Linked DNA regions of Homo sapiens: region 1 is reported to be linked to region 2. The links are microRNA targets in miRTarBase. Many come from high-throughput screens and were not tested one by one. Region 2 holds a microRNA gene; the other region holds the end of a gene's coding sequence.

Region 1 (5,000 bases), not on the chromosome of region 2:
AAATTATTATTTTAAAATTTAGTATTTTAAAATATGTAGATAAAAGAGTATCTACACTCTTCAGCATCATCACTTGACTTTTATGTTGTACATTTTATATGTATGTATGTGGAACTCTTTTAGCTTTTCTAAAAGGCAGCAGTTCCAATAGGTAGTATTGGTTCTTGATTTTAACAGATAAAATGGTATAGCTATACCTTGTTTAACCAGGTAAAACTATAACCAGATTTCACTTTATTCTACAGGATACAATCCGGATGATGATTACTCAAGGCAATATGCAGCTCAAGGAGTTAGAAAAAACACTTGCTTTAGCAAAATCTTAACTATAGCATTATTCTGAAGGATTTTCAAAGTCTCCATGTGTTTTGTTGCATTTAGGATTAACAATGGACAACACAAAGCCCAGTCTTACTATTTATATGTACAGTATTTGGTGATAGAGAGCAAAGGAAAAACACATCAGAACAGTTGCCTTAACACTGAAAAACATACCCTGCATTTTGAAAATGTTTATGGATGTCTCAGCAGTTCTTAAAAGAAGAAAAAAACCACTAACAAATGGCCAGTAGATGCTGGACACAATCATTAGGGAAGTGTAAATCAAAACTACTATGAGGTCGGGTGTAGTGGCTCATGCTTGTAATCCCAGTACTTTAGGAGGCTGTGGTAGGTGGATCACTTGAGGTCAGGAGTTCAAGACCAGCCTGGCCAGCATGGTGAAACCTCATCTCTACTAAAAATACAAAAATTAGCTTGGTGTGGTGGTGCATTGCCTGTAGTCCCAGCTACTTGGGAGGCTGAGGCAGGAGAATCACTTGAACCCAGGAAGTGGAGGTTGCAGTGAGCTGAGGTCGTGCCACTGCACTTCAGCCTGGGTGACAGAGTGAGACAGTCTCTAAAAAAAAAAAAAAAAAACAACCCTGAGATTCACATTCACTAGAATGGCTGTAATTAAAAAGAGAAATAATAATAAGTCTTGGTGAAGATGTACAGAAATTACAGAACCCTCATACATTGCTGGTGGGAATGTAAAATGGTGTAGCCACTTCAGAAAACAGACGGTCAGTTCCTCAAAAGATGAAACAGCTGCTGTATGAGTTAGCACTTCTACCCCATGCCCATAGCCATTATTTGGCACTAAAAAGAAACGAAGGACTTATATATACTAAACATGGATAAACCTTGAAAACGTTAAGTGAAAGAAGCCGGTCACAAAAGATCACATGATGATTCCATTCATACGAAATGTCCAGAATAGGCAGAAAGATTAGTGGTTGCCTAGGCTGGCTGTAGATGGAATGGAGTAACTGCTAATGGGTGTAGGGTTCCTTTTCAGGGTGATGAAAATATCCTACAGTTAGCTTGTGGTGTAGGCTGCACAACTCTTGAATATATTCAAATCCACTGAACTGTACATTTTAAATGTAAGGTATGAATTGTATCTCAATAAAGCTGTTATTAAAAAACTCTTGAGGTGTAGGACTGAAAGTATACTGACACCAGGAGATACCCTGGAACTTTCTCGAAAAATCCTGCATTATCCCTGAGGGTTGTTCAGGTACGTTCTTCAGATGTGTCATAGTTTGATAGAGAACTCATCAAAAAGATCACCACTGGGAATCTAGATCTTTGTTGAAAAGGGAAGAGAAAGAGAAGCTTAATGAGCACATTGAAGCACTTACCAGAAAGAAGAGGGAAGACTTCTGGATGAAACCTCTGTGAGTACCTTAACATTCACATGGAAGTAGTAAAAATAAGATTCTGGGTGCAGTTCTCCAATGACAGGAAAAAAAACAAAGAGAATTTGAAGAATACGTCAGAGACAAATACATTACAACCAAAATTGACTTCAAGGCACTTTTGAAGGAGATCAAATTTATAACAAAATAATTTAGTGAAAGTGAAAGCTTGTGGAAGATGTTGGAATCATCCATCCTGAAAATTGAAGTCTTCTGTTTATCAACAGAACAGCTAAGAAGCTAATCTAAGAATGACCAGCACCTGAAAGATGTAGACAACATTTTGCAGAATGATAAATGGTATCCAGTACTGGACTGTGTCTGAGAGGCATCAACTGAATGTGGATGTTAATGACCTGGACTGTCAGGGTCCACCTCTACCTCCCAGAGCCTCAGAGCCCACAAGACAAAATAATTCTGAATACTGTTCCATGGGGGTAATCTACTAATTCAAAATGCCTGCCTGTGCCAATTTTCAGGTTTTTATGTAGATAAGTATTAGTTAACCTGTTGCAAAATGATCTGACAAACAGAAGCATTTGTGACGTTTCTGAACAGAGAACACTTTGGAAATATTTTTTGTGTGACATGATTGATAGATACATGCTATCTCTAGTAAATCTAAAATCTTGAAACTCAAAATCATCCTTTTATGGGTGTAGAAGTCAGTGATTTAATGATGCTCTTCCTAACAGTGGTGTGCATGGAAAGGTTTTCATTAAAGAGCGTATGTGGTTTGCATTTGCAAGATTCAACTAGCACAGACTCCAAGAAAACCTAAGTTTTTTTGTTTTTTAAAGCAGGTAAGGCCGGGCACTGTGGCTTACACAAGTAATCCACACACTTTGGGAGGCTGAGGTGGGTGGATCACTTTAGGTCAGGATTTCGAGACTAGCTAGGCCACTAGCTAGCCTAACCTGGTGGCACGTGCCTGTAATTCCAGCTACTCAGGAGGGCTGCCTCATATTGAACCCGGGAGGCAGAGGCTGCAGTGAGCCGAGAACACACTACTGCACTACAGCCTGGGCGAAAGAGTGAGACTCTTGTCTCAAAAAAAATAAAAAAGTGCCATCAAGTTAGAAGTTTTAAATTCATGGTACAAGCATTGCCATAGATGTGCCTGCAAGAAACACACAGATGACTTTTTTTTGAGACAGGGTCTCTGTTGCACAAGCTGGAGTGTGGTGGCGCGAACATGGCTCACTGCAACCTTGAGCTCCTGGGCTCAAGAGATCCACCTGCTTCAGATTTTCATTTAGCTGGGACCACAGGCATGTGCCACCATGACCGGCTAATTTTTTTTACTTTTCAGAGAGAGGAGGGGGAATCTCACTTTGTTGCCAGGCTAGTCTCAAACTCCTGGGCTCAAGCAATCCACCTGCCTCGGTGGCCAGAGTGCTAGGATTACAGGTGTGAGTTGTTTTTTTTTTTAAAGAGACAGTCTTACCTCATTCTGTCACCCAGAATGGAATGACTTTCTAAAATTGCAGAAAGCAGAACATATTCCTTGCTGTTTATAATATTATAGTCGTATCAAAGGGAAAGAGTATTTCTCCTTAAATAAAATTACAAATAAGAAATGTATGTTTTACTCTTACTCATAAAAGGTATTGTAGAATACAAAAGGTTTTTCAAACTGGTTTTGTCTTTGATTGGCTTTTATAATCCACACTTCAAAGAAGAAATGCATTTAACTTTTAATAACTTAGTCAAAAAGTATAATGTTGCCTTGCCTTGCATAACCTTTAACTATTGCAAATGATGTTTTGTCCTTCCCCTTTGTCCAGTATTTTCCAAATGGTCAACAGTTTAAACATTTAAGCTTGCACTGAGAAACCTTGCCACATTTCAGCAGTTTTGTTTTGCTTTTGGTGGAGAGCACCTGATCGCGACTTTACAGCCAATGTATTTACTCTAAATTACACTTTTATAGATACAAGGTAAAGTGTAGCTGGGTGAAGGCACTCAGGAGCCATAAAATGTGGTCAACCACAATAAATTAAAATGTAAGCTAAACAAAGTATTCACACTTGCATTTTTTTAATAAGGAATTTAAGATCCATAGTATCTTTAATGCTTGGAAGAGACACAAATTCAAGGTGATAAAAATATTAATTAGAAGACACATAACATGCCTCAAGTATATCAACACTTGACTCCACAAACAAGGCATAACCATGAAAACAACACTCCCTTTATTTTGGGCTCCCAAAATCAAAAGTTAGAACTAATTTATTTAATCACAGATATTTAGTATACTCAATAATGCACTAACAATTTCTTTAAAAAAACACTAATACTGTACAGTATTTCTGTGTTTTAGTTTTTCCCACAGCTGTTGAAAATTTCAGCCTTGATTTGAAACATGACCTGCATGACAGGCTATAAGTTGTCAATAGTTCTTTTTCTTTGGAAAAGTACAGTTGTGGCATTTACTCACTTTAGCAGATAGCTAAAAGGGAAAAATAAGGAAAAATATACACTGGACCTGCAGTTAAGTTTTTGACAATGCCAAGGATCAAAAACAGATGAAACAACATTTGCTGAAGATGAAAAGGTATTGCATTGGTCTTAATAGATGTTGCCATCTCTGGGTGAGGATGCTGACTGAGCCTGTTCTGTGTCTTCATCACCTCTATTTGTTTCTTCTTCTACGACAGACCTCCAAGAGACAAGATCCATGTAGTAAGCCACACTAGGTCCTTTTGACCCTTCTCATTCTTCTGTAGTCTCTTCCCTGTGACTTTTGACAAAAATACTCAGTTCACAATATTAGCTGCCTGCTTCTGATGGGTAGGAGGTAATCAAAATACTCCCACCAAAGCACTCTATGGTCTAGACTTGATACTTAAAATTTAGTTTTCAGCATTCCTCAACAAGGATACCTTGAGGTAATAGGAGATATTTTGGTAAGTGAAAATAATTCCTGCTTGGAACACAGCCTACTGAACTCAGGATTTAATTTCTTGAGTATTAGGCAGTTCTCAATAAATTGATGTATACTGAGGAATGATTCTAAAGAGGTTAGTGATATCCTGTTTGAGAATAGATTTAGAAAACTGAAGGTACTCTCCAGCTCTACAATTCTGTATTAGGAACAATAGGGAAATGAGAAAGTGCCTCTATATTGCAATCTAATGAGTCTCTGGGGGAAGACTGTCTACCTGCGTAGTAGTTGAGAACAAGACAAGCTCCCAAACACATGAAAATCAACTTGAAATAACATCAAATTCAGCCTGGGCAATATCATGAGACCTT
Region 2 (5,177 bases):
ACAAGGACTGACCCTACTAAATGGTAAAACAGCACAGTTCTGGTGAATCAAAATTAACAGAAAAGTCAGTGGAATAGAGCAGAGAATCCAGAAACCCATATGCAGCAGAGAATCCAGAAACCCATATGCATGTGGGAATTTAGAAAATTATAAATGTGGGCCGGATGTGGTGGCTCTTGCCTGTAATCCCAGCACTTTAGGAGGCAGAGGCAGATGGATCGCCTGAGCTCAGGAGTTCCAGACCAGCCTGGCCAACATAGCGAAACCCCGTCTCTACTAAAAATACAAAAATTAGCCGGGCGTAGTGGCATGCACCTGTAATCCCAGCTACTCAGGAGGCTGAGGCAAGAGAATTGCTTGAACCTGGGAGGTGGAGGTTGCAGTGAACTGAGATTTGTGCCGCTGCACTCCAGCCTGGGCAACAGAGCAAGACTCTGTCTCAAAAAAAAAAATTATAAATGTGGCATTTCAAATGACATCGTGTAGAAAAGAAGGAGTGTTCATTAAAAGTGATTTTGGGACAAAACTTCCACTTCACTCCTTATACAAAAACACATTCCAGATGAAGCAAAGATAAACAAAACCATAAAAATAAAGCCATTAAAGAAATAACTTAATAATCTGAGTGTATTATGGCCCCAAACCTAGAAGCCATAAAAGACTGATAAATCCAAATACATGAATCATGAATTTCTGTAAGACAGAAAAACAAAACAAAATACCATAAACAAAGTCAAACGACAAAAAGACTGAAAAAGAATAAGTGTAACATATATCACAAAGGGCTGTTTTCCATCATACCACAGAAAAATGAACACAACTCAAGAACAGATAAATCACAGGAAAAAAATTACAAATTATTCTCTGTATGGAAAGGTACTCATCTTGATTCATAATAAAAGACACAGTCCAGGCGTAGTAGCTCCTGTCTGTCATCCCAGCACTTAGGGAGGCCAAGATGGGAGGATTTCTTGAGTCCAGGAGTTCAAGACCAGCCTAGACAACATAGAGTGACCCCCATCTCTACAAAAAATTTTAAAATTAGCCGGGTGTGTTGGCATGTGCCTGTACTTCCAACTATTTGGGAGGCTGAGGTGGAAGCACTGCTTGAGCCCAGGACGTTGAGGGTGCAATGAGCTGTGATAGTGCCACTGCACTCCAGTCTGGGCAACAGAACAAGACCCTGTCTCAAATAATAATAATAATAATATAAATACAAATTTTAAAAAATCAATATAAGAGACGAATTAAAATCACAGCTAGAAACCACCTTTTGTGAGTTGTGGGGAAACAGGCACTCTCACACATTGCTAAGGAGAGAAAAATGGATACAATCTCTATGGGGCAATTTGCCAATATATATTAAAAAATGTACAGATTAAGAACGCACAAACCTTTGAACCAGCAATTCAACTTTCTAGGAATCTATCCTACAGATAGATGTACCTGTACTTGTGTACAATAATAAAAGAACAAGGATGTTCACTGATGCATTGTTTGTAATAGGAAAATACTGGCAATCTAAATGTCCAGCTATTAGGGACTGTTAAATCATTACCATACATACGTACAATGGAACGAGGCAGCTCTACATATATTCATAAGTAAAACAAGCCAGTATAGCATACTACCATTGTGTTTTTAAAAGGATATGTATCAATAACATTGTTATTTACGACATATTTATGACAAAAGATGTTAAAAATGCTGATATGGGCATAAAATAAATCTGAAAATATTTCCAAGAAACCATTACCACTAATGGCTTGTGGAGAGAATTGCAAGGCTGGACTATAGGAATAACATGGATGTTTACTTTTCCCTGTATCTTTTTTGACAATTTTGGATTTTGTATCTTTTGTGTGAATTACCTTTCATTGTTGTTTTACGAGTTTTAAGATTCCATTCATTCCTGGATTTATTTGCTAACCTTGTACAAAGTTAACAGTTGTCAGAAAAAGATATAGTAATTCCTGTCTTGAGGAGCTGATGGGCACTGGGCCTAGGACCTCTTTGCACTGGAATAATGGGGGAGGGGAGCGGGTGACCTTATCAGAAATGCAGATTCCTGGGCCCCACCCCAGACGGACCGAATTAAGAGTCCCAGAGTGACGGCAGAAATCTCCATTTTTGACGGGCTCCCGCTGGGATTCGGGTGTCTGCTCATCTGGAAGCCTCCATGCTGGAGAGGTAGTCAGCACAGCGCACGCAGGGCGTAGGCGTGTTTTCTCGTCCCTCCCTCGCAACCACAGTCCCGCTCAAGGCGTGGGGGTGTCACCCGAGACCCGGGCCTCCCCTGCACTTTCCTTTAGGCCGAAACCGCGAGCCTTCGCTTCAGTGTCGCTTTTCCTTCGCCGCCGCCGCCGCCGCCGCCGCCGCTCTTCTCAGGACCTACATCGACTGCCCAGTCGGCTGAGCTGGGCCCTGGGCCACCGAGGCCCGGGGAGCTGAGGGGCTCGGGACCCTGCGAGCCGCTTAAGAAAGGACCGCAAGAACCGAATGCAGTGAACTGCGAGAGCAGGGAATGAGAGAGAAGTTAAACCGTTTAGCAAAAAAAAAAAATAAGAGACATGATGGAGGCAGAAAATAAATTGTAGGGGGGAGGGAAAAAAGCGTTACGACTCCGCCGGGACTCGAACCCGGAACCTTTGAATGCCTTCAGCCTCTAGAAGTCCAATGCGCTATCCATTGCGCCACGGAGCCACCTGTTGGAGTCTCAGCGCATCTGCTATGTTAAGCCAGAGGCGACGGCCCCGCGCTCTTCCGACCGCGCCTCCCGTCGTCAGTGTCACCGAGACCCAGCCGCCGCGCTCAGGGCACTGCCATCCGCCTCAAACGCCAGCCGCAGGCTCTCGGTCTCCCCGCAGTGGTCGCCCCTCAACAAGGTCGGCGACCCAGTTGAGCCAAGGGCGGCCGCAGTCCGACGGTCCCACCTGGTCGGTGTGAGGGCAGCCGCAACCCGGTCCCCTTCACGGTCCGGGCCCAGCCGTACGAATCACAGTCGCGCTTTTCCCTCCCCGGCTCCCTTCCTGCCCCAAGCGCCCCGCCTACCAGGTCTCTCCGGCGGCCGCTCCAGCCCGGCCGGGACCCCAGAGTTGCAGGCCCAGGCCAGCCGTTGCACCGTTAAGCCGGGCCGGTGACGCCGGGCCTTTACGTCGCGCCTGTGAGCGGCCGAGGCCGAGCGGCCTCCCCTCGGGCTGCGAGACGTAAGCGGCGACCCCTCTCGGGCCTGGGCTCTTCCCTCGCGCCCGGCCGCCGCGCCCGACCCAGCCGCGGCTGGACCTGCGCGCGAGCGCCGCCGCGCGACGTCTGTGTGCGTGCTTGTGCGTGTTTATTTGCGCGGGGTTCGAAAAACGGGGTTTGGGTTGCATTTCGCTCCCCACAGACCCAGAGCCGAATTTCTGAGGTATCCGGGCTCTGGTGGACTGAGGGGGGCGACGCGCCCCGCGCCGCAGCATCCTCCGAGAGCTCGTCTTGCCGCCAGCACCTGCCTCCAAGGACGCCGCGCAGCTGCCCCGAGCCCGCGCGCCCGGGGCCCGCGACTGCGTGGGCGGAAGCCGGGAGGGTGTCAGCACGCGTGGGAGCGCTGGGAGCATGCGTATGCGGGTGCATGTGGTCGGAGGGCGCGCGCTCGAGCGCGGCCGCGGGGTTTCCTGGTGGCTGCGAGCGGTGGGGACGGCAGCGGGCCTGGCGCCGCTGCCCAGAAGGGTGCGGTCGCCACGAATCTGAGAGGCGGCTGGGTGGGGGCCGGCAGGTTTCCAGTGCCCGCAGTGATCCCCATCCGCAAGACCCCGAAGCCCTTTGAAATAGACGGTCAAAGCCGCGTGGTTGCTCTGCGACTGCAGCGGCGAGACCGAACGCCCGGCCCCCGTTCCTATTAGCTCACAGCAGTCCCGGCCCCGCCTACGGAGGATTCGCAGGGCGGCCGCTGGGCGCGCTTTCTCGGCTCGGCCACAGCCCGTTTCTGCACCAAACCCGCCAGCCGCGGCCCACCCTGTGCTTCACCCATACCCGCCCCTGCCCAGCATCGCCAGGCCTCAAATGCAGAATAGTCTCTGGCAGAGTTCAAAGAGGGAAAGGGAAGTCCTGGGAAGAGTCCAGTGTGGTAGGGATTTTACAGTCTTACTTAACCCCAAGACGAAGCTATGGGGCGGGTACATACACACCACCGTCCCCTTTATAATATAAAGAAGGGAAACTGCAGCTAAGAGAGGTTAAAAAACTCGTGTAGGGACGCCCAGCTAGTGAGCGTGGAGAACTGTGATGAATCATATTTTGTTATGTTTGCAAACTAACACGTTAGCTTTCACGGTTTCATGAATGCTGACAGAACACACCAGACTTCTGAGTCAGAGATAAAAGACTATTACAACAAAAGCAATAGCCAGAGTATCACCATTTTTGAGTTGGCTCCCTGGACCCCAGTTCTCACAGGAACGAAGCACACGGGCCCAGATGCATGCTTACACACAAGATGGGTTGCATTACAGAAGAGGAATGCTGAGCTTGGGGAACCCACCATGTTATAGTGAGCAGTAAGCAAGCCTGCTCTTTGTTCCATAGGGAGACATTACCTCATCCCTCAAGATTGCTCGCTGCAAACACAACGCTGAGAAATGGCCCAAGTAAAGCGTGATCAGGGTCTTGCATTCTTGGCACATCTAGGAAGAACGTGCAAGGATGCGAATTGTGAATCGCTTCTCCAAACAGTAAGTGGCAGAGCCCTGATTGGTGCCAGGCCTATTTAATTATACTCTAATGTAAACAAAGTTTTATATATATATATATATATATATATATATATATATATATAAAATTGTTATGCCCCTTTAATGAATTAAATGTCTTCACATTGCATGCAGGGAGAATTCTCATATGGATAAAATTAGCCTTTAAAATGGAATATGGTTTTAAATTGTATTTATTTAAACAAATCTTTTTTGAATTCTGAAATATGCCAGGCACTGGTGGCATCTCAGGGTCTCCACTGGTCTTAGGAGTTGCTCACAGCCGAAATGGGAGAAGAGATGCTCTGTATGCCTGTGGGAAAACCATACAGAGGAATTCTGCCTGGGGTATTGGAGCCAAATCTCAAATGATGAGGAGTCATTGACGTGATTAAGTGACAGTTGAGATGCGTATATAAAAATTCTGGAAAGGGGGAATTGGGAAAGAAA

Evidence for each region. The annotated mature microRNA hsa-miR-760 reads CGGCUCUGGGUCUGUGGGGA and lies in region 2 at 3,377-3,396, opposite strand. An mRNA with a match to its seed (bases 2 to 7 or 8) in the 3' UTR can be bound and repressed. Matches are read on the target gene's strand: a 7mer-m8 pairs with bases 2 to 8, a 7mer-A1 pairs with bases 2 to 7 and ends in A, and an 8mer does both.
Region 1: the mRNA of LYRM2 is a reported target of hsa-miR-760. Seed matches in the 3' UTR shown: 7mer-m8 at 2,128-2,134 and 7mer-m8 at 2,136-2,142.

What each region holds. Positions count from the first base shown.
Region 1 is chr6:89,632,599-89,637,598 of GRCh38, reverse strand. It overlaps LYRM2 (LYR motif containing 2), which reads left to right. Exons shown (of 3, transcript NM_020466.5): 3 at 246-5,000. The coding sequence ends at 326. It overlaps ANKRD6 (ankyrin repeat domain 6), which reads right to left. Exons shown (of 16, transcript NM_001242809.2): 16 at 3,778-5,000. Among named protein-coding and RNA genes, the nearest start is that of MDN1-AS1, 3.4 kb to the left of the region's middle. RefSeq lists an enhancer at 1-104.
Region 2 is chr1:93,845,099-93,850,275 of GRCh38, reverse strand. MIR760 (microRNA 760) reads right to left here and starts at 3,444; the gene lies at 3,365-3,444. TRR-TCT1-1 (tRNA-Arg (anticodon TCT) 1-1) reads right to left here and starts at 2,703; the gene lies at 2,619-2,703. It also overlaps a transcript of BCAR3 not described here. RefSeq lists enhancers at 2,294-2,343, 2,558-3,348, 4,024-4,153 and silencers at 3,044-3,183, 3,364-3,743, 3,834-3,893.